Linked DNA regions of Homo sapiens. The protein of the gene in region 3 interacts with the protein of the main gene of each other region in a pairwise test. Each region holds a gene or a part of one and is shown on either strand. Other genes may lie near its edges. The genes, in order: TXNDC9, FAM90A1, CEP76 and ZBTB24.

The links.
Region 1: the proteins of CEP76 (region 3) and TXNDC9 interact in binary tests that used the Homo sapiens proteins (3 or more experiments, as listed by UniProt).
Region 2: the proteins of CEP76 (region 3) and FAM90A1 interact in binary tests that used the Homo sapiens proteins (3 or more experiments, as listed by UniProt).
Region 4: the proteins of CEP76 (region 3) and ZBTB24 interact in binary tests that used the Homo sapiens proteins (3 or more experiments, as listed by UniProt).

The regions. Positions count from the first base shown.
Region 1 is NC_000002.12:99,332,290-99,341,394, forward strand, and holds the start of TXNDC9 (thioredoxin domain-containing protein 9), read right to left. Parts: upstream 4,045-9,105; 5' UTR 3,950-4,044; intron 954-3,949; 5' UTR 922-953; coding exon 733-921; intron 1-732. Other genes in the region: EIF5B (eukaryotic translation initiation factor 5B), read left to right, coding at 5,266-5,300. UniProt on the Homo sapiens protein: Significantly diminishes the chaperonin TCP1 complex ATPase activity, thus negatively impacts protein folding, including that of actin or tubulin.
Region 2 is NC_000012.12:8,219,329-8,224,618, forward strand, and holds the end of FAM90A1 (protein FAM90A1), read right to left. Parts: intron 4,888-5,290; coding exon 4,688-4,887; intron 4,230-4,687; coding exon 4,121-4,229; intron 3,457-4,120; coding exon 2,494-3,456; 3' UTR 1,932-2,493; downstream 1-1,931.
Region 3 is NC_000018.10:12,691,293-12,699,723, forward strand, and holds part of CEP76 (centrosomal protein of 76 kDa), read right to left. Parts: intron 7,912-8,431; coding exon 7,687-7,911; intron 6,117-7,686; coding exon 5,931-6,116; intron 4,060-5,930; coding exon 3,962-4,059; intron 196-3,961; coding exon 67-195; intron 1-66. UniProt on the Homo sapiens protein: Centrosomal protein involved in regulation of centriole duplication. Required to limit centriole duplication to once per cell cycle by preventing centriole reduplication.
Region 4 is NC_000006.12:109,472,233-109,480,663, forward strand, and holds part of ZBTB24 (zinc finger and BTB domain-containing protein 24), read right to left. Parts: intron 4,699-8,431; coding exon 4,531-4,698; intron 4,027-4,530; coding exon 3,943-4,026; intron 3,251-3,942; coding exon 3,167-3,250; intron 1-3,166. UniProt on the Homo sapiens protein: May be involved in BMP2-induced transcription.

The DNA.
Region 1 (9,105 bases), on a different chromosome or scaffold from region 3:
AAACTTAGCCAGGCATGGTGGTGTGCGCCTGTAGTCCCAGCTACTCGGGTGGCTGAGGCAGAATAATTGCTTGAAGCCGGGAAGCGGAGGTTGCAGTGAGTTGAGATGACACCACTGTACTCCAGCCAGGGTGTCACAGCGAGACTCCATCTCAAAAAGCAGAAAAAAAAATTTCAATTTACAGAATTTAATCCACTGGTTTCAGTCAGAGTTTACAACTCTGCGTTTATTCTACACAAACATTCTAAGAGGCAACAACGATAGAGCTGTGGCCACCTTTGTTACAAAGCATGCATTCTTTTGAATATGCCACATAATTATTTCATTGGAAATGCCTGAAATACATTTTTCAACATAAATTGACTTAATTGCTCTTATCTCATCTGTCTTATCTCGTTTGCTTTGAAAATAGCTAAATCGGCTTTAATATTACCTGAAATGGAAACCAATGACTCCCTAGCCCTCCATTCAACCAAACAAATCCAAGCTCAGAAAAACGATCTTGGGCAGATCTTTCTTTTACTCGACTGTGGATTAATATAGAGATTGGGCTAATTTTGAATGTCTTTAAAACATATTTTTTTCTGGGCAAATTTTTAACAGTAATAGGTATTCTGAATTTTAAAAACCCTAAACACAAAGAACGAAATGTAACTACTACAGCACATGTATATATAAGTTGTTAGGCGCATACTGTTATAGCAATTTCAGAAAGCAGGGCAGAGAGGTTACTTGTTTCTGCTGTTGAGCTTTCCTTAGTGCCTGGAGTCTCTTTTCTTTAAGGCGTTCCAATTCATCCTCATCCATCTGATCCAGTTTTTGAATTTCAGAATCCAAATGTTCTTCCACCAGTTTGGTAGTCTGAAGCAGCTGATGCTCCAGGACTTTGGAAAACATGTCAACAGATGCATCAGCTTCCATTCTTCCAAATGGTACAGAGTTCAGCCTGGGTGCTGGGGAGAAGATTTACAAAATACATTTTAAAAAATGCAAACAATAAGCAAGGTTTTCTCTACCATTTTCAAAAATTCTGGCAAGTGTATAATGTGTACTCTATGGAGTATTCTAACGACATCCAAGCACTTGATGCTGGGCTTAACAATTTTTATGTGTTTTTAAATTTAATTCTCAGTAGGTTCTAGTCACACCACTCAAAAACTACTTACAGCAAATTTAGGGTGCTTCTGATTTAGCATATGTTTTACTATACTAAAGCCAAGACAAGTCTTTAAGACCATCACCAAACCACAGAGAAATGAGTTGTGAAGTTATACCTAGTGATATATACTGACAATCAGTGTTCTTTACCAATGGGAAAGAGAAATCAGAAACAACTGCGAACAATAGGAAGGTATACCTACTGAGGTTTTACACATAAATATATATATTAAACTTTACTTAAACACAGAGTACAGTTGAGCAAAACACAGATTTTTTTCATGGCTGCTGCCCAAATGAGTTTCATTTAACTCCTAAGACGTCTCATTACCATTTATGTAAAGAAGAGTGCCTGGTGTTCCCTGAGCATTAATGTCCATTCCTGTTCTCCCATTACCTAACAAAAAAGTCTATGAGGTCACAAAAATTAATACTGGTTTCCATTTACTGACAGTGTTAACTTTGATGTAAAACACTCCAAATACTTTTCTAAATTTTGGGTTTTTTTCCAACATCACTCCTCTGTGTAAAATCAGAGTTTCAAAATAGAACTAATTCAGATTAGAAAGGAAGACCTATCTCAATTAGTCATGCATCACTTAACAATGGGAATATATTCTAGGCTGGGTGCTATGGCTCACGCCTGTAATCCCAGCACTTTGGGAGGCCAAGGTGGGCAGATCACTTGAGTTCAGATGTTTGAGACCAGCCTGGGAAACATGATGGAACCCTGTCTCTACTAAAAATAGAAAAATTGGCCAGGCCCGGTGGTGTGTGCCTGTAGTCCCCGCTACTAGGGAGGCTGAAGTGGGAGGAGGATACCTTGAGCCCAGGAGGCAGAGGTTGCAGTGGGCTGAGAACGCACCACTTGCACCCCACCCTGGGCAACAGAGCCAGACCCTGTCTCAAAAACCAAAAACCAAAAACCCACAAAACAATGAGAATACATTCTGAGAAATGCATCATTAGGTGATTTTGATATTGTTTCAAACATTATAGACTATTTACACAAACCCAGATGGTACAGCCTGCTACACACCTAGGCTATGCCATACAGCCTATTACTCCTAGGCTACAAATCTGTACAGCATGTTACTGTACTGAATACTGCAGACAACTGTAACATAATGGCATTTGTGTATCTAAACATAGAAAAGGTACGATAAATACAGTATTACAATCTCATAAAACTGAAATGTCCTTATGTGGCACATGACTATATATTTTAAAAGAAATGGAGTATTTTGTACTAGCAATTAGTACAAAATTTTACTTTTTTTTTTGAGACGGAGTCTCGCTCTGTCGCCCAGGCTGGAGTGCAGTGGCGCATCTCCGCTCACTGCTAGCTCCGCCTCCTGGGTTCACGCCATTCTCCTGCCTCAGCCTCCCGAGTAGCCGGGACTACAGGCGCCCGCCACCACGCCCGGCTAATTTCTTTTTGTATTTTTAGTACAGACGGGGTTTCACCGTGTTAGCCAGGATGGCTACGATCTCCTGACCTCGTGATCCGCCCGCCTCGGCCTCCCAAAGTGCTGAGATTACAGGCGTGAGCCAGCCGCGCCCGGCCAAAATTTTACTTCTTTTAAAAGAAATGGAGTATTTTGTACGAGAAATTTTATACCAACAATTAGAGGGCAAGTTTATGTGTATCTCAGGGTTATTACTGCAGAAATGATTTATAATTTGCCTATCAAAGCAGGAGGCTGTTGCATATCAATGAACTATGATACATTTGCAAATAATACTGAAGCACCCCAAACTTCACAACAAACTGTGAATTCATTCACTCAGCTTCTGACACAGATTCTGACCCACACAGGCCCTCTATAAACGTTGAGCTGAAGAGAAATATTCTTGCAAACTTCAATTCTGATTCCTTTTTCTTTACAGGAAAAGGATTTGAAAAGCATACTTGATTTCATCTTTGTATCTCCATAGAACACAGCAGGTACTCAATAAACATGTATTTAACGTTGAATGAACACGTGCCTGACTTCTGTTCAAATTACTACACTGTTAAGTTTCAAAAGTATTTGAGTCTAAAAAACCAAATTGTAAGCTCCTCGTGAGTGCTATAAAATTGGAAAGGTGCTGTATTTCAAACACAGCAAAGATTTCCACGCTCCCTATCGCCCAAGAAAAATGTCAGTAGGACTGTGACCCTCAGTGAGGGGGCTGGAAGGAGAAGATAATAAGATACTGAATTGAACGTTGGAAGCTGTGCTCCAGGGATAAGCACAGAGAATGCCTACCCTGGAACTTTATAGAATGAGCCCAGAATTTAATTATGGGATAACTGGAAAAAGACGAGATTAAGAAGAGCTATTCTGGGTGTAGGTGTTGGTGGTCAGAGCATTGAGAATGGGGTAAAGAGACGATGCAACCCCTCGTTAGCTTTTCATTTTTCAAACCACAGCCTCTGATTCTTCCTTTTTACAGCTCCGCTGGAAGGGTGGGACGGGACACAGCGCGTCCTCAAATTCCCTAGTCATTTCCTGGACACCCTTACAGGTATCCGCCAAAACAATCAAGGGGCCTGGTCCTTAACTGAACCCCAGGTACCTCCCCAATGGCAAGCCGGCCACTCCCTGCGCCCGGGGAAACAGAGGAAAGCACAGTCCCGGTGGCCCCAACTTCGACGCCTCCTGGTGCGCTTGCGCAAGAGCCTCTGCCAGGACACCGACACCGGTGCTGGGGCCGCGCCCCTCCTCCGCTCCGGATGTGGAGCAGCAGAATGTTCACCAGCACCCGGACGTGGTGGTCGGATTCTTCTCACTACCCTCTGCCTCACCTGAGCTCTCGGTGACGCCTGAGAAGTGAAAGAGCAGCAGTTTCAAAAGACACGTCCACTCCGGCTTTTGCCTTGCAGTAGCTGCCGGCGGCTGCAAACGGGCCGTCACATCCGCCTCCTTATTGGCTGCGAACCTCGCGCGATATCACCTTGGACGCCAGAGGAAGGGGCGGGCGGTCGGGTGGCGAACAGTTCTGCGCGTGCGCCTCCCGCCCAGCAGCCCGGAACCCAAGGTGTCCGACCCTTGCTTTCCTCCGGGTACACGGCCGAACTGGAAGGCCGCAAAGCATTGTGGGAGTTGCAGTTTCTTAGTGCGCAGGCTGTCGTGGCCGGACTTTCTCAGGAGCGTGCTTCAGTATTCACGGTCCAGTGCGCCAGACTGGAAATGAGACAGCTGTGCTCTCGCTCAGCCGTGACGCTTGAACTGCGTTTCCATTCTGTTAGTGTTGAATGAACATTTTTCTTTTTTTTGTTTTCTTTTGTTAACATTTTTCCTAAAGTCGAGGCATAAACATATACAGCACAATTAACTTTTGCATAGTTAAAACCCAAAATATCACCGGCCAGATCCAGATATAGAACATTTTCCACCACCCCTGTAGGTCCCCTCTTGACTCTTCGAAACACAGGAATTTTTAGAACTCGCCCTCGCTTTGAGGGTGAAGCTGAAGACCTATGTTAGGGAATTGATCGGCTGTGTCCTGTTCTGTTTTATTCAGTGACTGTACATAATGCATAATGCATGGATGTTACTGAGAGGTCCCTATTTTGTCCTGAATTTATCTCTCTCGCAAACCCCCAGAGGACTCTATTGGTTCGTTGTGGTTCTTTACTGAACTTCGTGCGGCTGAGAATACAAAGATATAAAGGGAAGCCCAAAGCCCACTCCTGAACCGAAGCGTGCGTTCCCCGTTGGGAGAGGGGTGAGGTGGCGAAATTGACAGCTTCATTGTCCACCTCCGGGTTCTAGAACGTGGAAAACCCGCGGGTGTCGGCTCGTGGCGGACGCTTGAGGGCAGGGGGCGCTCGGGCTGCTGCCTGGTCGGCCGGTCAACCGGAGACGCTCTACCCGAAGCGCAGCTCTCGATGAGCCGCGCCCTGCGTCCTCACGCCGAGGCGGCTGGGCGATGCGCTTGCGCACTGAGAACTCACACCATATGTGTCCTGTTCCAGTGCGCGGGTCTGTGGAGAGCCGGGTGCGAGCGGCGGCAGCACGAGGGGAAAAGAGCTGAGCGGAGACCAAAGTCAGCCGGGAGACAGTGGGTCTGTGAGAGACCGAATAGAGGGGCTGGGGCCACGAGCGCCATTGACAAGCAATGGGGAAGAAACAGAAAAACAAGAGCGAAGACAGGTAGATAGGGGTTGGGTCCGTACGGCGGCGGCCGCCGTGGCTCAGTGGAGTGTGCGGGTCTCGCCGGGCGCGGCGTCGGACCGGGGTCTGGGCTCGCGATGAGCTTCGCGGGGTACCAGGCCTGGGCCCAGAGTGTGCGGAGCGGGCCCAAGCCCCCGGGCCGGGTGGGCACGTAGGGCCTCGACGGCGGGCGGGTCCTCCCAGTCGAGCCTCGCTCCCCCGGCACCCCTTCCCCGGCCTGAGGAGCGGGGTAGTCATTTGAGGGTTCCTGGTCGCGCGGGGAGGGTCAGGCGGCTTCGCCAGCGTGGCCCAGGCCAGTGTGAGTTTTTTTCCGCGCTACTCTTGGCGAGGGTGGGGAAGTTCTTTTTATGCCTCTTATACCTGTGAGTACTTTGGGAGGGAAGGGAGCTTGAATGTGATGTACGGCCGGGTTTCTCTACTCGCGGTTTCAGGTACGTTAGAGTTATGGGGAGGTGTTTAGCAGTTCGCTGTCTCTCAACTTAATCTGATTTGGATACAGTTTTCGTTTATTTAAGGGCTGATTGTCCAGCCCTCATGCTTTTCGCTTTCCTTCTTCCGGCCTGTTTTTTTTTGTCGTTTCTTTGCTCTCTAGCCTTCCCCTAAGAAAGGAAGGGAAGAAGAAGAAACCAACCAACCGAGGTCGCTCCTTTCTAACCACCTGCAATGCTTTGGGGAGGGAGGATAAGGGTATATGCGAGTTACTTACCTAGAGATTTTTGAGACATTTCTGTGTGTCACATTCGATTGAGTTCTGTTACTCATGATGGAAAGAGTTGACTTCCTGGGAGTGAACAACATCTGTTACATTACACGTTCGTACACTACCCACCAAACTTAAATACGAGGCGGAGAGTAAGGTAAATTAAAAAAACTAGTGCTAGTTCATCAGTCTGACTCAAAACAGATATGTTGTCTTGAAGTTAAAATAAGTTTACTAATTATAAATTGGAAGCCTGGATCGTTTTCTCACCTAGCGTTTGACTAGCTTATGAGTAGAATTAAAAGACAACAAAGATAGTCTTGTATTTCAGTTTTAGGTCTATTGGAGGAAGTTAATTGGTTTGGAGAATTGAATTATTGTTAAACCAGATGAATGAGAAAATAAGGATTATGGGTGATGTAGGGGAACACAAATTTCTGTACTTTTGACAGGAATTTTTGATGTATAGGGTACTTTTTTCCTTGCTAATGTTCAGCTGTCTCTAGAAAATAGAGAACTGAGTATAATGAGCCTTTATGTATTAATTACCTGCCTTCAACCATTGTTAGCACATGACCTGCTTGGTTTCATCCCACCTACTAGAAGTGTGTGTATATATATATATATACAAATATATATACACACATATATATAAATATATATATATACAAATATATACACAAATATATATATACATTTTTTTTTTTTTTTTGAGACGGAGTTTCCCTCTTGTTGCCCAGACAACAAGAAACTTAGGGCAATGGCGCGATCTCGGCTCACTGCAACCTCCACCTCCCTGGTTCAAGCGATTCTCCTGCCTCAGCCTCCGAGTAGCTAGGATTACAGGCATGCACCACCACATCCGGCTAGTTGTGTATTTTTAGTAGAGACGGGGTTACTCCATGTTGGTCAGGCTGGTCTCGAACTCCCGACCTCAGGTGATCCGCCCGCCTCGGCCTCCCAAAGTGCTGGGATTACAGGCGTGATCCATCGCCCCTGGCCCCCACCTACTAGATATTTTAAAGCAAATCTCATTAGCTTTTCATCTGTAAATCCACCAAGTATATCTGTAAGAAATATTAATAGTGATTCTTAAACATTAGCAAATATTCAGTCAGTTTGCTGATTTCCCTGATTGTCTTATTACAGTTTTTTTTTCAATTCGTTCGTTTGGTTTAGGATTACACAAATGTGTTCTTTAGATTAAAATTACATATATATGTGTTTTTGTTTTGTTTTGTTTTTTGGAGATGGAGGGGCAGTCTCACTATGTTGCCCAGTCAGGTCTTGAACTCCTGGCCAGTGATCCTCCCACCTCAGCCTCCCTAGTAGCTAGGACTACAGGCGCGATCCGGCTTATATGTTTCCCTACTTACACTTTTTACTTTCCAGGCTCTTTCACAATAGAAAAAAGCCATTGGGAGACAAGATGTTTATTCTTGTCTGTGTCTTTTTAGGGAAAAGTGAGTGTCTCATTGATTTATAAAGATTTTCAGGGATGCTGTAAAGTTTAAATTGCACACTAGACCCTGTTGTTAAATGATTGGTTTGGTTGTGTAGAAGAAATGCTGTTTTTTCCCCCTCTCAACCTAATCTGTGTTTTGTTGTTGTTGTTGTTGTTGTTTTGGTTTGTTTGTTTTTGGCTCATGTTGAAGGGAAAGTGGTGGCAATATAATTTTAAAACATTTATTTTCTCATATACCAATATATGAAATTGATACATTTTGTGAGTGTGTGTGTGTATAAATGCCTCATGGACTCCTTTTTATGAATGGCTTTCAGATTGTGTTTAAGAAATCCTGAGCTTTAGCAGAGTTCCCTTTGACTGGAACTGCTTGGGTTTTTATTTTGGTCTTCCACATGAGATATTGGGAGATGGGGAATGGGAAGTTCCACTGCTTTGTGAGTCAGCTTTTTACCTTTATTTTAATATTTCTTTCCTTTCTTCAGGGATATTTTGAATATTTGTAAATGGGACAAAAACACAGACTGGAAAGAAAATCTAGAGGGAGAAAGTCCAATTTTAGGATTAGTATTCTTGTTTGTGTAAAATGAGATAGAGATCCGGTTTTATTCTCCTGGGTGAAGGTCCACACTTTAAAGATTTTACTGTCATTCCACCTCCCCTCCTTGGCTATGTCAGGCATGTTTCTGGCAAGGTGTGAACTGTGTGAGAAATGACAACTGCTTATTTAGTTATCAAGAGAAGGCATGGAGCCACTTTTCAGTTCTTGGACAGAACATACAATACTCACTGTCCTTAATTCTTATATTTAATTAATCCTTATTTTAACTTCTTAGCCACTCAGTATTCATTTAAAATTAGATTTTAACTTACCTAATTTTATTTGTACAGCATGTGTCAGTGATCAAGATATTTATTCTTGTCTGTGTATTTTTAGAATTCTAGAATTTTGCTTAAAGACCAAGTTCTAGAATTCTGTTCCAGTTTGTGAAAAATCTTCTTTTTTTTTTTTGAGATGGAGTCTTGCTCTGTCACCCCGGGTGGAGTACAGTGGCGCGATCTCCACTCACTGCAACCTCCGCCTCCTGGGCTCAAGCGATTCTCCTGCCTCAGCCTCTCAAGTAGCTGGGATGACAGGCGCCCAACACCTGGCTAATTTTTGTGTTTTTAGTAGGGACAGGGTTTCACCATGTTGGCTGCCTGGTTTCAAACTCCTGAACTCAAGTGATCCTCCCACCCTGGCCTCCCAAAGGCCTGGAATTACAGGTGTGATTCACCACGCTCAGCCCCAGTTTGTGTAATTCTAAGAATGAGATTTTGATGTGGTGTTTGTTCAGCAAGTTTTCCTGACCTTTTTCAGTTGACTCGGGAAACTTGTTGAGACAAAGGCTAGGATTCAATATCCACATATCAAACAAATATAATACACATAGCCTAGGTTTAATAAAGGAATTCATTTCTTACTTGCATATATTTGAATGAAACTCTTGTCTGCATAAATTACATCAAAAAAAGATGCATAATCAGAATTCTTTTGGTCTAGCCTGTTCCTATCCTGACGCTTTAGGAAGTGGTAGGGGAAGAAGTCCTAGTTTGCTATAAATTAATAAGAAAACAGA
Region 2 (5,290 bases), on a different chromosome or scaffold from region 3:
GCTTCATTAATTATTCATGATTCAGGTTGGAAGGCCTGCTGACGACCCCCTGTGGCCGTTCTCTGAGCTTTCCTGTCACATCGTTTCCTTCCACGCTCTTTGGTTCCTTGTGGTCCTGCTCCTTCTGCTGTCAGAGGAGCAGAGAGTTGATCTTATTGATTCTGGATACGGATACTTTCTAGGTGATCTGGATAATCAGGATAACGACCCTCAACAGCGGCGGAAAGGGAGCAGCCATTTGGTGTGTCTCAGAAAATCGCGCTCAGTTCCGAGGCCTCCTAGATGTGGAATCCTGCTCAGAGTTGTTCCCAGGTCAGAGAATGGAGAGAGCCTGGGCATGATGGGATATCCCTGCCTAGATCTTTCAGTGAGTCTCTACCTCAGCTACTCTTAGGATCAGGGGGAGAACCATGGAAAGGCCCGGTGTCAGACATCCGGAAAGAAGATGGGATGAATGTTTTACCTCTGAAGTACATCCCAAATCTGGGAGTTAACTTCAGCTTTGCTGGGCTCTATTTGGCCAGTGAAACTCTGCCTGGTTCATTCGCACATCCGGAAGCCACTTCACGGGGGGCCGTCGCAACTGGAACCACACACTTGGCATCGGCGGTTGAGCCAAATGGGGACTCGTGGTGCAAGCAACGCTCCCCACGTGTTAGCGTGCGTGAGATTCAGTTGGCGGAATTTTACTAGGTGTGTGTTGGTAGAGTGGGGCTGAGGTTTTCTTGCTCCTGTGGATGTATACGAAGTCAAAGGTCCTGCCCAGCCCTGCGGTCCCCTCAGTCAACTCTGTTTCAGAGACATAACGATTTGGATTGAGAACAAGTCAAGAAATTTTCAAGCCCTTGGATGTAGGGAAAAGAAAGAGAGATCAGACTGTCACTGTGTCTATGTAGAAAGGGAAGACATGAGACTCCATTTTGAAAAAGACCTGTACTTTAAACAATTGCTTTGCTGAGATGTTGTTCATTTGTAGCTTTGCCCCAGCCACTTTGCCCCAGCCGCTTTGACCCAACTTGGAGCTCACAAAAACCTGTGTTGTATAAAATCAAGGTTTAAGGGATCTAGGGCCGTGCAGGACGTGCCTTGTTAACCACATGTTTACAAGCAGTATACTTGGTAAAAGACATTGCCATTCTCTAGTCTCAATAAACCAGGGGCACAATGCACCGTGGAAAGCCGCAGGGACCTCTGCCCTTGAAAGCAGGGTATTGTCCAAGGTTTCTCCCCATGTGATAGTCTGAAATATGGCCTCATGGGATGAGAAAGACCTGACTGTCCCCCAGCCTGACACCCGTAAAGGGTCTGTGCTGAGGTGGATTAGTCAAAGAGGAAAGCCTCTTGCAGTTGAGATGGAGGAAGGCCACTGTCTCCTGCTCGCCCCTGGGAACTGAATGTCTCGGTGTAAAACCCGATCGTACATTTATTCAACTCTGAGCTAGGAGAAAAGCTGCCCTGTGGCGGGAGGCGAGACATGTTGGCAGTAGTGCTGCCTTGTTATTCTTTACTCCACTGAGATATTTGGGTGGAGAGAAACATAAATCTGGCCTACGTGCACGTCCAGGCATAGTACCTTCCCTTGAACTTAATTATGATATAGATTCTTTTGCTCACATGTTTTTTTTGTTGACCTTCTCCTTCTTATCACCCTGCTCTCCTACTACATTCCTTTTTGCTGAAGTAATGAAAATCATAATAAAAAAAACTGAGGGAACTCAGAGGCCGGTGCCGGTGCAGGTCCTTGGTGTGCTGAGTGCCGGTCCCCTGGACCCAGTGTTGTTTCCCTATACTTTGTCTCTGTGTCTTATTTCTTTTCTCCGTCTCTCATCCCACCCGACTAGAAACACCCACAGGTGTGGAGGGGCAGGCCACCCCTTCACTTGGAAAATCAGTTAAACACAAACACGGAATGAAAGTCAAAAGACAATATGTCATCTTTTTGAGAATTTTATTCACTTCAAAACAAATTCAACACACCTATTTACAAAGGGATTCCAGAGCCCACTTTTCGAGGCTGAGGAAAGACCCCGAGAGCGCTTTGCACAGCGCGCTTCCCAGCGTCCGAAACACTGCTCTCAGGGCGGGGCACAGCGGAAGGGCTGCACCTCTCAGGGTTCCCTAACTTTTCCCTTATTCAGTCGTCTAGAGAGCAAATACACAGTAATTCCCCCGTTTCCTATTGACGTCCCAGCGGAAGTCTGACTCCTGCGCGTCATGCAGTTTCTGAGGCAACGAATCACTGGCACGGAAGCTTTTCCTGGCGCGTTTCCAGAGAACCATGCGAACTACAATGTCCCTCACCAGAATTCAACGTGGCAGAGTCCCTGCATCTGCTCCCTGCCTGGCCTGGGCTCCCACATCCACAGAAGGGCCACAGCCGGGGAGCTTCGGAGTCACCGCACAGAGTCTGCTCTCTGCTCTGTGCTCCTCAGTCCCACAGTCCCCTCCAAGTCACGGGAGCTGGAGGCCAAGGAGCCCCTGCCACCTGCAGTCTCACTCCAGGTCAGAATCGCTGTCCTCTGAGGAGGAGGGAACCTGAAGGTCCTCATAGAGGACGCTTGGTGGGACACGAACACAGGGACCCTCAGACTTCTCTGAGACATGAGGGCTCTGAGCGAGGAAGGCTCCCGGCTTCTCAGGAGAGTGAAATGAGGGGGCCGTCAGCAGGCTGGAGCTCCAGCGTCCGTTTTCCAGTCTCCGAAAGAGCACTCTGAGAGGCTGGGCCCCATCATGGCTGGCCGCTGGGTGATGGGACATGGTGCAGGCCTGGGCAGTAGGCAGGCAAGGTCTGCTGTGCGGAGGCTGCCGGTCGCCGCTAAGCACCTGGGCGGGTGTCCTCGTGCCTGTCTGGGGTGACGTACGTGGTCCAAGTTCGGTTGCGGCTGGCGGAGGTTGGAGATTCTCCGGGGCCCCCAGCTCACCTCCCTGGATGGCGCTTTCGGGGATCTGGAAGGGACCCAGTCTCGGTTTCTTGGGGAAGTTCAGGCAAGCCTGAATCGGAGCCGGGGCAGATCTCTTGGCTCCTGGCCCGAAGCTGAGATTGGAGCCTAGGCCCAAGCTGTGTGTGGCGGCTGGTGGGCAGGGCTGTGAGGTCACCGCAGGACGTTTGTCTTGTGCCTGGGGGCTGACGGCCTGGAGCAGGCCGTGGGTTTTGGAGGCAGCCTGGGGAACTTCTCGACAGCCACCCGCAGGGCTGCTGTGTGTCGGCTTCACCACGAGGAGAGGCTCGGGGCCCTGGTGCCTGACTGCAGTCTGAGGGATGTCGGCCGCAGCCCCTGTCTGTCTTTCCTTTGGTCCAAGACTTGAGGAGGAGCTCAGACTGGCTTTTCTGAGGGGAGACAGTGAAGCTAAGACGGAGCCCCTGTCAGACATTTCGGTAGCTGAGCGATCAGAGAGGACAGGGTCCACACGCGGCCTCTTACTGGTTGTGTGGACCGGCATTGGCCCGCTTGCAACCTGAAAGAGAGGAAACAACACAGGTTAGAAGTTCCTCAGCATGGAGCCAACATGAAAATCAACCACATCCAAAGACAAGGTGCACACGCCATGAAATTCTTAGTACACTATCGACAGGCGGTCCTTGGAAGTAGGGACAGACCCTCCACCTGAGTGCTGATCAGGACAAGACACATGAAAGATGCGCTCTCGAGCTATGTGTAGCTGATCTAAGCACACCATTGTTCAAAAGATTGCGTCTTAGGCATTAGCTGGATCAAAGCGCCTCCACTCAGCCTTCCATGAAGTGGAACCGACTGATGCCCTTCCGAAGGCAGGTTGGTGGCTCAAGGGTACTCAGGACGTCTTCTCTGAACATATGCATGTTCCTGGGTTTAGCCTTCTCCACGTTTGGGGCCTCTGAGGGACTAATTTCCTCATGCCGCTAGGAACGTGTTGTTGGCAGGCTTGCCATAATTGGACAGAAAGAAAGCAACAGGAAATACGGCATCTTCAGATGCCTTCGCCTGGAATCAAATTGACCTGGAAGGATCGTGGAGTGTCTGACCCCAAGAAGGCAAGAAAGAGGGGTTCCCCGATTCCCTCCCGCAGACGGGAAGCTGAAAGGAAATCAACCAGGGTGACCTAGAGGAGAAAAAGACCAGGGGCCCAGGGTGACCCTCACCCTCAGATAATCAGAAGATTCCGTGGATCCTTTTTGATTTGGCAGCGGCTTCTCTGGAGGTTTCCTGGAAAATATGTGGAGGAGAGCCTTCCTCTGCGGGTCTTGTGGCCTGCAGAACAGAAAAAGGTCAGGCCGTCCTCCCTGGTTTTCCCCAGGAGACGGGGAGAACCCTGTCTGGGGCCCAGTCCCATTCCGTGTTTTGTGATACAGAAATGGACATCTGGTGCCCTTTCCGCCTCTGCACCTTCCCTCACGTGCCAACCTTCCCATCCTCCAGGTGGCCCTCTAGGCTTCCCAACTAAGGACTGTGATTTGGATTCCATCACTTTTCCCCCTGTCGTGGGGAACCTGCACGAAGCGCCCCCGCCCCTCCCCGTCCCTGAATCTCCCAGAGCCAAAGGAGCTCTTGGGTGTGGAACTCCGGAAGACACAGAGCTCCGGTCTGTTTCTCTGCAGCGTTCCTTCCCTGGCCCGGAGACGGAAAGGCACACGGTGTGCAGGTGCAGAGACACCATGTCCTTAGGAGGCAGTACCCTAAGAGTGGTGAAAACCACTCCCACTGCTCACCTTGGTCTCTCTTCCTTCTCTCCCTTATCCTTGTTCAAGGGCCCAGGGTTCGCTTCAACCTGGGGCTTCCATGGTTTCAGGTTTTCCTTCCCTTCCTTTTCCCCAAAGTTCGGTGGAACCAGGGCTGCCTTCCAGCACTTCATGGGGCACCTGGTACTTCTGGCCGTGTGGCCAAAGGCCTCACAGTTTTTGCACTTGAGCTGTGGGTGGAAAGGAAGTGATGTCAGTGAGTGAGCTGAAGCCACAGGCACCGATCCCACGTCAACATTGAGACGGATTGTGAATTCAGAGCTGAATAAGGATTCCAAAGAGGGGACACCGGCATGGGGGCCGTTAAGTGCTGGGAGAGTTCGGATACGATGTTCCCTCCCAAAGCCCATGTGACGGAGGAACTCTAAAAGGCAGGACTCAAGGTCCTAAGGGGCACGATGGTGAACCCGATGTCAACAACACAGCCAAACGTGGCTACACAGGACTCTAAGTAGAAAGGGAGGTTGCCCCCAAGAGTCTCTCAAGGGGCCTATCGGGCCGGGGAGGAGGTCCCAAGCCACGCCCACCTTGGATGGGAAAAGCAACCTGGGTGGTGGTGACAGAACTCTTTGG
Region 3 (8,431 bases):
AAATTTACACACATAACAGTAAATCTCAAATACAGGCATAAAATTATTCTAATATAATTTACAAACCTGTGCAAAAATCTTAACCAGTCGTGAGTTGTGTGAGGGTCGAATTTGCAAATATTCTCTCCACCACTGCTTAGCATATACAAGAAATAATCGCTCTTTCTCTGCAGTTTTCTGACGTTCCAAAGCAAGCTTGAAATTGAAAAAAATATTTTTCAATTTCTATTCATTATCTTTAATTACTACAAAATATGTAGCAAATTTATCTACTTCTCTACATCATTACCACCCTAATCTGAGTCATCATCATCTTCTATAAGAGCCTCCTGACTTCCCTATTTCTACACTTACCCCTAGTACAATCCCATCTCCATACAATAATCATAAGTCACCTTTTTTTCCTCAAAGACAGAATTTTTTTTTTTTTTTTGGTTGTGGAGGATGCAGTCTTGCTCTGTCGCCCAGGCTGGAGTGCAGTGGCAAGATCTCAGCTCACTGCAACCTCTGCCTCCCATGTTCAAGCAATTCTCCTGCCTCAGCCTCCTGAGTAGCTGGGACTACAGGCACGTGCCACCACACTCAGCTAAATTTTTTTTTGTATTTTTAGTAGAGACAGGGTTTCACCACATTGGTCAAGCTAGTCTTGAACTCCTGAGCTCATGATCCGCCCGCCTTGGCCTCCCAAAGTGCTGGGATTACCGCGCCTGGCCCAGAAATTTTTAAATAGTAAATCATACAAGCCGGGCATGGTGGCTCACGCCTGTAATCACAACATTTTGGGAGGCCAAGGCAGGTGGATCATTTGAGGTCAGGGGTTCGAGACCAGCCTGGCCAACATGGTGAAACCCCATCTCAACTAAAAATACAAAAACTAGCTGGGGATGGTGGTACATGCCTGTAATCCCAGCTACTCGGGAGGCTGAGGCAGGAGAATTGCTTGAACCCGGGAGGCAGAGGTTGCAGTGAGCCGAGTTCATGCCACCGTGCTCCACCCTGGGCGATAGAGTGAGACTCTATCTCAAAAAAAAAAAAAACATACTGTCATTCTCTTGTTAAAACACTTCATTCTCCATCACATTGCAAAATACCTGCCCTGGCCTATGAACTCTGGCCCGACTATCTCATTTTCTCCTCTCTCCCCAACCCACTACGCTCTAGCCACACAGGGCTTTCGGTCCTCCATAGGGGCTTTTGTTCTAGGCTGTTCCCAGTGCTGGAAGCTCAGCCCCAATCTTTGCATGGCTGGTTACTTCCTGTTGTTCAGACTCTTTCCCTACCTTAGTCACTCGACCTATAATTAGCCACCCAATAACCACTGTATCATATCACCTGTAATAATTCTCCATAAAACACCTTCTACTATCTGATTATTTTGTTTGCTGACTTATTGTTTCTCCTGCACTAGAATCTAAACTCCTTGAGAGCAAGCTGTCTAGCTGTCTGCTGCCCTATACACAGCTACATCTCCAGTGTCTAGAACAGTGTCTAGCACATTTTGACATCTATTTAGGATCCATACATATTTCTGACTTTAATTTCTTTTAAGAGACAGGGTCTTGCTCTGTCACCCAGTCTGGAGTGCTACTGCATGATCATGGCTCACTGTAGCCTCGAATTCCTGGGCTTAAGCGATCCTCCCACCTCAGCCTCCCCAGTAGCTGGGACTACAGGAATGCACCACCATGTGCAGTTAATTTTTAAAAATTTTTGTAGAGATGAAGTCTACCTATGTTGCCCAGGCTGGTCTTGAACTCCTGGCCTGAAGTGATCCTCTTACCTTGGCCTCCCAAAGTGCTGGGATTACAGATTAATTAGCCTGGCTAAAAGTTTTAATAGTGCAATTTTAAAGAGAAAATTAGAAGCAATTTATTTATCAGATAATAGAATAAACTTATGTTTTAGTCACTAGAAATTATAAATATGACAGTGGAAATATAAGAAAATACATATAAAATAATGTTAAGTTTAAAAAGGAGAACCTGGTGGGGCACAATGGTCCATGTCTGCAATCCCAATGTTTTGGGAGGCTGAGGCAGGTGGATTGCTTGAGGCTGGGAGTCTGAGGTTTCAGTGAGCTATAATCACACCACTGCACTCAAGCCTGAGAGAGTGAGATGCTGTCTCTAAAAAAATAAAATTTAATTAAAAAAAACAAGCTACTACCCCAAAAAAGTAGAGCCCAAACATTTACTTTATATGTCACATAAATATATGAATAACATGATTAAAACTCATGTATACCACTTTGGGAGGCCGAGGCAGGCAGATCACGAGGTCAAGAGATCGAGACCATCCTGGCCAACATGGTGAAACCCTGTCTCTATTAAAAATACAAAAATTAGCTGGGCGTGGTGGCACCCACCTGTAGTCCCAGCTACTCAGGAGACTGAGGCAGGAGAATTGCTTGAACTCGGCAGGCAGACGTTGCAGTGAGCCAAGATTGCGCCACTGCACTCCAACCTGGCGACAGAGCGAGACTCTGTCTGAAAAAAACAAACAAAAAAACCCCTCACGTATACACATAATGTATATGTGTGTATACACCATTTATTTAAGAGACAGGGTCTTAGTCTGTAACCCAGGCTAGTGTGCAGTGGTACAATCACAGCTCACTGTAACCTCAAATTCCTGGGTCAAGCAATCCTCCCATTTCAGCTTCCCAAGCAGCTGGGACTACAAGTATGTACCACCATGCTTGACTAATTTTTTAAAATTTTTGTAGAGACAGGGTCTCACTATGTTGCCCAAGCTGGTCCTAAACTGCTGGACTCAAAAGTGATCCACCCACCTTAGCCTCCCACAGGGCTGGGTATTTATTTGAGTAACATCAAAGTTGGTTCTCACTATGTGGTTTCAGGTATATATACCACCCATGACACATGTCAGAAGCTAGAGATTAGAGGGAGATGAGAGTTTACAAAAGGAAGGAAAAAAAGTTTAAAGAAAACAGGGCAGGACATTGTTTGCCTGAGGGAGAAGCACTAGCGTCTAACCACAGGTCTGTAAAAGGAACAATATGACAGGCAGGGTGGAGTAAAGGGTGGTGTATGTAATCAAGGAGAACCATTCCACAAGTGCCATCCCGGCAAGTCAGCAGATAATGAGAACCTCCAAACTAAAGACTGGCAAGAACTAAACATGGATGGCAAATCCAATGTGAAGGAATGAAAAAATCTGCCGATCTTTTAAGACCCAGGAAGAAAGTAATTCATCAGAGACCTGACAGTGGAATTAGGGAAAAAAGCCTCTCCAAACACACTCTAAAAGTGGCAAGCACTTCTACCCTGAGAGAACAGAGCAGAAAAGACATAAGCAGCAAGCTTTCAATAAACGCCTGCGAAAGAACGTTAAAATCCCATCCCACTGAGGTTGCACTTTACTCTTTGATCTTCTTCAGCTTTATCCTGTAATTCTTTTTTTTTTTTTCTTTTTTTGAGATGGAGTCTTGCTCTGTTGCCCAGGCTGGAGTGCACTGGTGCGATCTGGGCTCACTGCAAGCTCCTCTTACCGGTTCACGCCATTCTCCTGCCTCAGCCTCCCGGGTAGCTGGTACTACAGGTGCCTGCCACCACGCCCGGCTATTTTTTTTTTTTGTATTTTTAGTAGAGGCGGGGTTTCACCGTGTTAGCCAGGATGGTCACGATCTCCTGACCTTGTGATCCGCCCGCCTCGGCCTCCCAAAGTGCTGGGACTACAGGCGTGAGCCACCGGCCTATCCTGTAATTCTTATGCTGTCTCAATAAATGTTCATCGTATTTCCTAAACTAGACTACAGATTCTGCTAGGAAAACAATCTTGTCTTTATTTTCTTCCTCATCCTTTTTGTGAACCTTTGAGTGCTAATCTAGAAAGTAATAAATGGTAATTTTCTAAAAATAGAGTGCTTTCTAGGATCAACAGGTAAATATACTACTATGAAAACAAACACACAAAAAAAGAGAAACTCATAAGTATTTACCTGTGTGTTCACTACTTCTTGAGATAACGTTTGATTGAGTGGTGGATACATTTCAAGTTTTATATTTAAAATTCCCACAGAAACTTTTGATTCTGTGCCTATAAACATAAATATTTTGAACTTCAGAGATTTCAATACTATATATATTTAGTCAACCAAAGTCTAACCAAAATAATTTAGGCACTTGGGTGTTTTATCACTTACATGGAATAAAGATAACATTCAACATTACCTTTAATATTCATATTAAAATGAACCAAATCAATTTTTTTAAACAAAGGTGTTTAATTATAAGGAGATTATTTTCTTAGCTTTCTGACACTCTTTTTCTTCTTTAAGTAGAGATGGGGTCTCCCTATGTTATTCAGGTTGGTCTTAAACTCCAGGGCTCAAGTGATATTCCTGCCTCAGCCTTCCAAAGTGCTTGGTGGGATTACAGGCATGAGCCACTACACCTGGCTTTTCTAACAGGTTTTAAGAAACTTTTCTGACTTAAAGGATTTGAGACTCTTAATTTTTGTCTTAATTAAATGTATAATATCAACCAGACTTACATTAAATTCAAAGTCAAAGCAACTGTTAACACCTCATTCCTTCTCCACACACACACACACACACACACACACACACACTAAAAATTAGAAAGCATTTATATTGTCACTTATAGTAACTCCCATTTGTCACTCCCCATTATCCAATTACAGGCTGAGTAGAAATTTTCAATCCATGCCTGGATTTAAAGAACTAGAAAACAAATATACTTCACATCAAAACGATTTAATGTTTCTTCAGTGAATCAGAATCTGCTTGTTTCCAGGTCACTGCTACGATTATCATGTTAGGCCTATTTTTGAAGACAAATTGGGTATTGTTTTTGAAAATAAATTTCTTACATAAAGGACACTTTTTCTATAATTTTTATTTAAAGAAAAATACATTCTTGGTATGACTTATTAAAATCTAAATTACTGGCTGGGCGCGGTGACTCACGCCAATATCCCAGCACTTTGGGAGGCCGAGGCGGGCAGATCACGAGGTCAAGAGATCGAGACCATCCCGGCCAACATGGTGAAACCCCATCTCTACTAAAAATACAAAAATTAGCTGGGTGTGGTGGTGCATGCCTGTAGTCCCAGCTACTTAGCAGGCTGAGCCAGTATAATCGCTTGAACCCAGGAGGCGGGGGTTGCAGTGAGCCGAGATTGCAGCACTGCACTCCAGCCTGGTGACAGAGCGAGACTCCATCTCAAATAATAATAATAATAATAATAATCTAAATTACTAAGGCTATGCTGTCCACTGGCAAGGTTTAACTCTGTGACTAAGTTTAAAAACCAAAGTAATTCCATTATATGTTATAGATAAAACATTGGTAGGTTTTGTTTTCTCATTTTATTAGCAAGTATGTGTTACATAGCGGGCAGTGTGCAAGATTCCAAGGAGACTATGATAAATAAGATAGGCACCAGCTCTGCCCTCAAGGACTAGTTGATACTAACACTGAGCAAATTATTTCCTCTTCCGAGTCTCACTCACCCACACTGTAAAAGGTTGGGAGAACATCTACTCTGTATTTTGCAAGAATCACTGGTACCAAAGGGGATGTATTCCAGGGTGTGATGACTGGACACACATAAGTTTGTATGTGTGTCAAGAATATTAATTTTCTTTATAGCCTTATATTTAATCAAATGAACTTGAAATTAAAACCCTCAAAATTCCTGTATTCATTTTCCAGAAAAAAACATTTCTCCTAAGACAAGGTCAGATTGACCATGAAGTGCTATACTGATATTATTCTTCAAGACATTTCTCAAGATTAGGATGCTGAGGTCCAATTGTAACTCTAACGAAATTCTATTTTACAGGTTTCCCTCTTGGATTATAAAAGCATTTTAAAGATATAAAATATATTTACAAATGAACTGTGGCTATAAAAAGGTTAACAATGATATATTAATCACCATACCTACACCCATAAGTTCCACAGTCAGACTGGTCACTCCATTTTCTGAGCCCAAAACCGATCGCCATTCCAGAAAATATGATGCTACTAAAGTCGTCTCACCAAATATGTCTGTTTTGATTAGCACCATATGAATTGGATCACTTATTGATAACATTGTTGTTGAATCAGCCATTCTAGTTCCATCACCTAGCAATATAATCCAAACGAAATTATACCACACTACATATTCAGTTAGGCCAACATAAAAGAATACTTTTATTAAACAGTAAATAATAAGCTTATATAAAACCAAAGAGAACAATTTGCTAATGTCTCAGAAAGCATGCAAAAAACTGGAAATACAAGTACAGTCCTATTTCTATCACTAACTTTTCAGAAGACTGGCAAATTGTGATGAGTTATCCAGTAACTTACAGCATATCAGTGCTTTCTGATTCATAAGATAAGTCTGTTCTTTAAAAGTACTTAACTAAAGTATATGCTACTACAATAAAAAGCCTTCAAGTATGTCAATATTAATCCCCAAACTACCTCAAGAAATCCCTTTAACCTCCAGAAATTATCACTGTATAATTGACATACAACTGAAAAATACAGCACATCGAATCTAGCAATTTATCCTATTAATTGCCTTATTAAGGTAACATCTTTCAAAGGGAAAAAAATAAATTTTAGTAATGTTTCAGTCATCTTTAAATCTAAAATTGTGAAGACATTCTGAAACTTTGCTTAGTTTACAAATATAAAGATTTCCATACTGACAATTACAAAATACAAAATACCTTTACTGAAAGAAACATAGTGTAAAACAATTACAGGAATCAAGTAGCATAAAATTTAGTTATGAGAATTACATGCTTTATTGGAGAAATAAGAAAAAAAAGAAAAAATTAAAATGACAGTTATATGTTCACATCTAAATTTGACTTTTTATTTTATTTATATTTATTTGTAAGTATTTATAAAAATTTATTAGAAGTTTTTATAAATAATTTATAAATATTTATTCATTTATTTATTTATTTAAACAGAGTCTCACTCTGTTGCCCAGGCTGGAGTGCAATGGGGTGATCTCGGCTCATTACACGCGCCTGCCACCATGCCCGGCTAGAAATTTTGTATTTCTAGTAGAGACAGGGTTTCGACATGTTGGCTAGGCTGGTCTCAAACTCCTGACCTCAGGTGACCCACCTGCCTTGGCCTCCCAAAGTGCTGGGATTACAGGCATGAGCCACCACACCCAGCCTATTTTTTATTTTTTGTAGAGACAATGTCTCACTTTGCCCAGACTTGTCTTGAACTCCTGGCTTCAAATGATTCTCTCACCTAGACCTCCCAAAGTGTTGGGATTTCAGCTGTGAGTCACCGTGCTCAGCCTAAACTTCGACTTTTAAAAGTTACATAACATCATCAATCTGGTTATATTTTATAAATGAGAAGGACCATGTCTCATTTTCCACTATATCATCCCAGCACCTGCCTAGCATAACACTATGCACATAATAGGTATTTAAGTGTGTATTACTAAAGAATCAACAATGAAAACAGTCAAAAAATAATATCCAGGGAAAATGAATAGCAAACAGAATATTGCAAGAAGGTGGATAGTAGTTTAAATTGAAAAGAGCAGTGGGAAACAAAATAGAGATTCCTCCATTATAAATCTCTCCTTACAGAAAAAGTCATTATTATTGTTTCACAATAAAACATAACAAAGATTTACTCAATTAAATGACAATTTATTACTGTTTCTTACCCAAGCTTTCTCTGTGTACTTCAAGTAAAAAGCCATCATGAAAATCTGGTTCACAGGCACATGGAACAGGTTTAGAACGAAAACGTTGGTTTCGATAATGTAAACATAAAGTAAACGTTGAACAAACTTGTCCAGGTAAAGGCTCAGGTTCTTGCAGATGTTCCAAGAAAGCTTTTCCACCCAAAACCTGAAGGTAAAGATACCTCCGTGTTGGATCAATATTAGCTGTAAAGTGTAGCAATATATATGAGGAAACTGCCAAATAACTTAAAAGAATGTGATCAAGACATTAGGAAATAAAAACTTGACAGATAAAAACCCAATACCAAAGACTAAAAAAAAAGCAAAAGAGTAACAAATTTATTACTGTATATGCCAGAATCATTTGCACTCTGGGGAGAAGATACACAAAATATGATATTCTTTTCTGAGTTTACATCCAGGCTACTTTCTCCCAGCTGGAAAAGGCATCAGAGCCAATATGTAGTATACTTTTGCTTTTTAACTGCTTATCCAACATTCCTCCACCTTCACAAACCAACTCATATAATTATCAATTCAGCAAGTGTATTTGTCAATTATATTAATATTTAAAAGCAAGGCTGTACAGTTTTTATAAAACATATTATTAAAACACAAGAAACTGGTGATGCTGTTTTTGCTTCTACCGTGCTATACATTAACTCTTCTGATATACTTCATGCAAAACAATCTGTTTTAGCCAACCATAAAATTTTAAGTATTT
Region 4 (8,431 bases), on a different chromosome or scaffold from region 3:
GGGACAGATGGGTCATAGTTGCTGCTCTTGAAGAACCCCAATTTTTTGATAGGTTCAATTTCTTTTCATATTTCTAAGTCATGCAAACCACAGAGGCCCGTCTGTCTCCTTTTTAACTCATCACACATCTTCCACTTTCTGTTCTGCTTCTCAAAGTTGACAGGCTGAGAAGAGTTTGCTGGAATTATAGTGGGGGAGGTCTTCTGTTCCTTTTCATCCCCACTTCAAGTCCTACTGCTACTCACAAAGCCCAGAAACCTCACTCCCCCTTATGCTCAGGCAACAGAACCAAGGGGAAGTGCCTCTTCTGGCACTGCTCAGCATGACCAAGCCAGCTCCACGCTCCTCCACCACCGCTGTCTCCCTAGGGAACTCAGCACAGCGCCACCCACTATTTGCAGGCACATGTGCACCTGTGGAAATCCAGAGCTCTGGCTGCATCTCTCCCCCGAATTCTCCAGACCTGGAAATCTAATGATCTACCCCACACCTGCACATGGATGTCAAATAGACACCAACCAGTCCACAATCTAACTCCTGATCTGTTCTTCTTAGTCTTCCCTAGCTTTTCCTCCTCACAGTGGCTTTTGCCTCCTCTTTCAACTCCCACATCCAATCATGAGCGAATCACATGAATTCTTCCCTGGACTATCTCCAGAACTGGACCACCTGACACCACCTCTGCTGCTACTGTGCTGTTCCGAGCCCCACTACTGCACAGCCTCCTGATGGGTCTCTCTGCCTCCACCCTGGCCTCGCCCCCACCTCACAGGGTGGCTAGAGTGACCCTATTACAACCCTAAGTCATGCCATGTCACTCATCTCAGTAAAGCCATCTCCCTCAGAATAAAATCCAATCTTTACTGTGGCCTTCAAAGTACTTCAGCCCGAGTGCACCCTACAACTGTTGAGGGGTACTTTAAAAAACACCAATTCCCAGGCTCTGCCCAGGTGAAGTCAATCAGAATCTTGGCAGCTGGGACAAGGCTTTTTTTTAAAGCTTCCCAGGTGGTAAAAAGCATGCAGCTAAATTGAGAACATCCACCTACACTATGACTTCCTACTCCCAGCTCTCTGGCTGCCTTGATGCTCCTCCCAGCACGTCTCCAGCTTGTCAAAAACATTTATTCCTGCCTGAGGGCCCTGTGCCCAGGGCTCCCCCTGCCTAGAATGCTCTCTCCTGGACATCTTCAATGGCCGGCTGGCTCACTCCCCCACTGCATTCTCATCTCCATCCAAGATGCCACCTCATCTGTGAGACCTTCCCAAACCAGTCCATGCATAAAAGAGCAACTCTCTTTCCGGCATCCCGCCCCCTTACCTTGCATTTTATTCTTCAACGCACTCACAACACCAAATGTGTTATATACTTGTCTGTACTCTGTCTTCCCTATTGAATGTTGGCCCCTTAAGGCAGGGGCCTGTCCATCTCATTCACTGCTGTATCCTCAAAGCCTAAAACAATGTCTGGTTCCCAGTAAGTGCTCAGTACATGTGTTAAAATCCATATCCTATGAGATGTTTACTGAATTTAAGAAGAAAAACTTGTATTTAAAAAACAACATCCAGGCCAGGCACAGTGGCTCACGCCTGTAATCCCAGCGCTTTGGGAGGCTGGGAGGGTGGATCACTTGAGCCAGGAGTTTGAGCGAGACCAGCCTGGCTAACATGCCAAAACCCTGTCTCTACAAAAAAAAAACACAAAAATTAGCCAGGCGTGGTGGTGCGCACCTGTAGTTCCAGCTACTCGGGAGGATGAAGCAGGAGAATTGCTTGAACCCAGCAGGCAGAGGTTACAGTGAGCCAAGATAGCACCACTGCACAACAGCCTGGGCGACAGAGACAGTGACTCCAAAAAAAAAAAAAAAAAAAGTCCAAAGCACCATAAATCAATTTGCTATTTAGATAATTCCAGTAGACAACAGAATTATTAAATAACCTGTAATGGCAAGTTTTTCTTAGAAAACTGAATAGGCTTATTTTTAACATACATTCTTTGACAAAAGGTATAAAAGATCCAATTTTCCGATCTTACATAAAAAAACTGACCTGCCCTAATCAATGCTGCCTCCTCGTCATCTCTGAAACTGATTTTTCTGGAGGTGGTGCTGCTTAAGTTTAAGTGTTGGTTCTAGGGGAGAAAGTGGAAACATTCTCAGTGTCTATGCTACATTTGTGTCTGTTACATTTGGCTGTCTTTTCTAAAAAAATAATCTTGGGCCAGGCACAGTGGCTCACGCCTGTAATCCCAGCACTTTGGGAGGCCAAGGTGGGCAGATCACAAGGTCAAGAGATCGAGACCATCCTGGCCAACATGGTAAAACCCCATCTCTACTAAAAATACAAAAAAAATTAGCTGGGCATGGTAGCGCACACCTATAGTCCCAGCTACTAGGGAGGCTGAGGCAGGAGAATCACTTGAACCCGGGAGGCAGAGGTTGCAGTGAGCCAAGATCGTGCCACTGCACTGCAGCCTGGCAACAGAGCGAGACTCCGTCTCAAAAAAAAAAAAAAAAATTTATCTTGCTGGGTATGGTGGCTCATGCCTGTCATCTCAGCATTTTGGGAGGCTCAGACAGGAAGACTGCTTGAGCCCAGGAGTTCAAGACCAGCCTGGGCAACATAGTGGGACCCATCTCTACAAAAATTAAAAAATAAAAAATTAGGTAGTGTGGTGGTTTGCACCTGTGGTCCCAGCTACCCAGGAGGCTGAGGTGGGACGATCACCTCAGCCCAGGAGGTCAAGGCTGTGGTGAGCTGTGATCGTGCCACTACACTCTAGCCTGGATGACAGCACAAGCCCTTATCTTTAAAAAAAAAAAAAAAAAAAAGTCTTGATATCACCTTCAATGCTGAAGTAAATTAAGAGTGAAACATAGAACCAGACTCAGACTCACTATTCTGTGGTATTAAATGAATTGTGACATACGAATAGTCCTCAGTAAGTGATCTCCATTTTGCTCATCTACAAGAGATGTGATTTCCCCAAAGACAGTGCTGACAACATTCTGCCTTCCAACTTTTAACTTATCTTCTTACACAACTCCCATCCAATTTATAATAAACATTTCCAAACACAGGCTTAGCAGGGCACTCAGAGAACTTCATTCTTCACTCTCCTGAAAACATCCCGTGTACTGGGGGGACAGACGAGATGGAGTTTTACCTGTGTGTGTTCGCAGATGTTTCTTTAGCTGAGACACATCCATGAATTTGCGATGGCAGTCTTTGCATTCCGGTAATGAGTGGCCTTGTCGCAACAATAAAAAAAGTGTCAGTGCATACATGCTCTCCCTGCCTTTTCTTCAGTGATTTGTGTTAAAGCACTTCCCTGAAAAATAATCACTTTAAATATAGTACTTTAACCACAAAAATTTTTTCATTAATTTGGTAACTGTTAATATTTTCCTAAGCACCTCAACTCACTGCCTCCTCCAAGAGAGCTAGGATCCTTCCAATTCTAAATGTAGTCTCTCCTTTTTTCCTCAAAGTATTGGTGTGACTGAGGCCACAAATGACCTCAAATGACACTCGTAACCCACATTCATTTCTTATCAGTTGGCAGGAAAGAAAAAGGACAACAGGTAGAACCAGGGGAGAGAAAGCCTGGGCTGACAGCCATGGGATGATGATGTCTCTGCCCAGGCACCACTAACAACCATTCACTGAAGCTCCCCTGTGCAAGTGGCACTTTTGAAAGATGCCAATTCTGTAGGGTTTCTGTGTGTGGCACCAAAACTGTAGTATACAAATAAAACATAATTCACATGGTGGCGGACAATAACATAAAAACATGTAATTTAGACTCTTAAGGCACTTTTCCCTAAATACCCTATGTGAACGATATGTGCTAAGAGCAGAACAATATAAACCTAATGTTTCAGAAACAATTCTTATTTGCATTTCTTCCCCCCCAATCTAAATGTTCTCACTTTATCGTACCTGTATGAACTCGGTAATGGCTCTTTAGCTGTCTGTTCTGGCTGAAATATTTTCCGCATTGATCACAGGTAAAAGACTTCTGTCCTGCCAAAAAAACCAAAACACTAAAACATGTAAAAAATTATAAAGAACTGGAATGCTCACTAATAAGGTAAATACTACAGTGGGTCCAGGTCCCCATTTTCTACAAATGATACAAGCGACTTGTTTACATACCCAGAAGCCTTCAATCTACCACAGAAACATAAATGTGCAAAGGTATGTAAGGCAATCGGGAGTACTGGAGACTGGGGTAGAACTGGAGAATTTAAGTTTCCCCGAAAGGCGTTCAAAGTAAAACAATTCTAAACTTTGGTGGTTTAATAAAACATGCTTGCACACTAAACTCCCAGCAGCCAGTTTATAAGCTCTAGTTTAATGATCCGTGCAGAACTCTAAACTGCACTCAGACAGATGCAAAATCCTGTCTTTCAATGACACCACGTTGGAAATGATACTAGGCTGAGAAAACACCATTTAGGTGTTGGTAATGCCCACCCTGGGGAATGGGAATCTGGTGAAGCTGGCCCTCTGGGCAAGCCCCACTACCTGAGTGCAGGCTCATGTGCTCCAGCAGTGAGTGCTTGGTGGTCAGAGCCTTGCTGCACACGGTGCAGGTGTACGGCCGCTCGCCTGTGTGCATCCTGGTGTGGACCTGTAGCGAGTGCTTCTGGGCAAAGCCTTTTCCACACTCATTACATTTGAAAGGTCGCTCCCCTGGAAGAAGAGCCCCAGAAGCATGGTATAAGTAAGAATCCACACATTTTTCTGTCTCTCCCAAATTAAAAAAACAATAAAGGATTTTTCTTAAAAGGCACACATCCAAAAGGCCAACAATGAACACAAGAGACATCAGCAATAAAATTTTGGAAGCTGAACAGATGAATCTGAAGCCAGCAGTGAGTAGCACTAACATAACCTAATTTTTTGTTTTTCCTTTGTAACAGGGTCTCACTCTATCACCCAGGCTGGAGTGCAGTGGCGCTACCATAGCTGACTATAGCCTCAACCTCCTGGGAACAAATGATCTTCCCACTTCAGCCTCCTGAGTAGCTGGGATCACAGGCATGTGCCACCACTACACCCAGCTAATTTTTTAATTGTAATTTTAATTTTTTTTAGAGATGGGATCTCACTATGTTGCCCAGGCAGGTCTCCAACTCCTGGGCTCAAGCAATCTTCCTGCCTCGGCCTCCCAAATTGCTGGGAGTACAGGCATGAGCCACCACACCCAGCCCAATACAACCTAATTTTTAAGACACAATCTCCTAAGGCTCAGGAATTGGTGGCACCTGCTATCTCTGGAAACAGGGGTGAGGGAGGGTAAATGAAAGTCTGTTTCAAAGGTGCTTAGACCCCTGATCAAATCTTCCACTCTACACAGCCAGGAGACTGTCCCTCCCCCAAAAGAGAATGGAGAGTGTTCACTGAGGAGGGTTAAGAAAAAGGGGTCTTTGGATTAGGAGTTTCTAGGCACAGTTGAGTTGGGATCACCACAGGGAGAGTAAGTCAACATTTCCATCTGGGATGATGAGACTCCCCCACTCCTTCTTCCCCATCCTGTCCTAGACACAGGCCAGCAGCCAGGCCTAGTGCCTCCAAGTGGGAGAGCAGAAGCGTCTTCCAGTGGAACATGAGAGGTCCAAGGTGAGAGAGCAAAGATGTGGAAGCCAGGCACCAGTAAGGACATGGGGCACAGCCACACCACCTCCAGTGAGGTTATGACAGGCCTCCATACAACTGTTTCAGTACTGACTGAGTGGTTAAGTTAAACATTAAAAGCCAGTGCCCTTAAACAAAGGCTGGAATGTAACAAAAGCCCACCAAGAGTTTCCCCTAGGCTTCTCCTGGGCCTTAAAGCATGACAAAATAACGAAGGAATTCTTAACAGGGCCCACTTAGGATTAAACAAGTTTTACTGGGGATCTGAAGGAACTCCCCAAATCTCCGTGATTTAGCAGAAGATAAGGGTAATCACCCCAGCACCTAGACCCATTTAGATTAAGTAAACTTACTGAGGCTCCAGAAGAAGGTCTTTGGGACGCAGACCTTGGATATAGATTAAAAGAAGTTAATCACCTACGTCTTTAGAGGAATGCACACTTACAGACAGACATACAGCTTAGGCGGTATATAAGCTCTGAAAAATTCTGTAATTTTGAGTTGGTCTGGCGATAATTTCCAGGCCTTCTCCCTATAACTGGTTACAGAAATAAAAACTCTCTTCCTCTCCAATTCATCTGCATCTCATTATTGGGCCACGAGAAATAGCAGCCTGACTCTCAGTGTGATCTGGGAACAAGGTCACAGTTTTACAGACTCTCTCATACAAAAAAAATTAGCCAGGCATGGTGGTGCGTGCCTGTAATCCCAGCTACTTGGGTGGCTGAGGCAGGAGAATCACTTGAATCCAGGAGGCGGAGGTTGTGGTGATCGGAGATCACGCCATTGCACTCCAGCCTGGGCAACAGCCTAAGAAATAAATAAAATACAGGCTCTCTCCACACATGCAGCATTGCCAGTAGCTTTTAGCAACCCACCCTTACATATGATTTAAAAAAAAAACACCAGGCACTCAAGGAGAGCCTTTTGTAATAGTGACAGACAAACAAGCAAGAAGAAAAAAAAAAGCAACTTGCCTCCAGTGAGGAAAATGTTGTTATCATTAACATGCTCATAGAGGTAAGATAATACATTGTGAAATAAAAAGATCATTCAAATTAAAACATTTAGAAAAAAAAGAGCTCCTAAAGGGGGAAAAAAATAAGAGTTGAAACAGAAAACCTCAAAGGGCTGAAAAACAAAGTGGAAATCCCCCAGAGGGTGGGGCCAAAAATGATGGAAAATATAAGAGAAAATAAAGTTAGAGAGAACAGAGAAAACAGAGAGGAGAAATCATCTATGAAATAACTCAAGATTTTCCAGAACTGAAAGACAGTTTCCAAACCTTATGAATCTACCTGTTATCTACCCAGATGGAAGAAAACAGACCCATACTAAAGTGATGGGCTGCAAAATTCAGAATACAGATGCTTCCTGACTTATGATGGGACTACATCTAACAAACCCATCATACTGAAAATATCATAAGGAAAAATGCACTTATACAGAGTACTGTATGAATGCACCAAATGCAGAGTACTGGTCATTTACCCACGTGACTGTGTGGCCCGGCATGGCATGAGAGGATCATACTGAATATTACTAGACCGGGAAAAGATCAAAACTCAGAATTCAAAGTACAGTTTCTGTTGAACATGTACTGCTTTCACACTATTGTAAAGATGAATTGAACCATTGTGAGTCGGGGACTGTCTGTACTGAGGACATAAGGGAAGAACGATCCTACATGCTTTTTCTTAAGTCTTGTATAATGATTTAACTCTAAACTATGCACATAAAATTTTTGATAAAAATAGCCAGCTGGGCGCAGTGGCGCACGCCTGTAATCCCAGCACTTTGGGAGGCTGAGGCAGGCAGATCACGAGGTCAGGAGTTTGAGACCAGCCTGACCAACATGGTGAAACCCCGTCTCTACTAAAAATACAAAAAATTAGCTGGGCGTGGTGGCGTGTGCCTGTAATCCCAGCTACTCAGGAGGCTGAGGCAGGAGAATCACTTGAACTCGGGAGGCGGAGGTTGCGGTGAGCCGAGATCGCGCCACTGCACTCTAGCCTGGGTGACAGAGCGAGAATCCATCTCAAAAAAAAAAAAAAAAAAAAAAAAAAAGCTAAAATATAACCTATTACAGTTCAACAAATATTTCTCAAGTATCCACTTTGTTCGAAGTACCTGAATTCAAGCTCTTCAACCTATCTGTAGCTAAAGTCTTTAGGGAGCTTTTAAAAGCACCAAGGCTCCAGACAACTAAATCAGAAGCTCTGGGGTGGAGGTCTAGGCACTGGTAGTTTTAGAAGCTCCCTAAGTGATTCCAATTTGCAGGCTGAGAACCACAGCACCAGATACTGCTGGATCACAGGAGAAGACTTAAGCCCCAGTCCCTATACTTAAGATTACAATTAAGTTGAGGGATATACAAGTGGTAACAACAATCTGATCCAAAGCAGAGTGGGTTTTAAGCACCTGAAAGGGCTCAAAGGAGGAAGGGATTTCTCACTAGGACTGCAGTGTCCAATACGGTAGCCACTAGCCACATGTGGTTATTCAAATTTAAATGAATTAAAATAAAATTTAAAATTCAGTTTCTCAGTCACGCTAGCCACAGTTCAAGTGCTCAAAAACCACATGTGGTTACTGGCCACCATATTGGACATCAGAGATGTAGGAACATTTCCATCATCACAGAAGGGTCCCATTGGTCAGCGCTGGGCTAGAGGGACCAAAAATGAGAAGGTATTTAAAGCTAGATAGCTGAGTTACAAAGTGATCTACACAGACTTGGGCAAAAGCATGGTTATGGTCAAGATGAAGAATGTTCAAGAATCAGAAA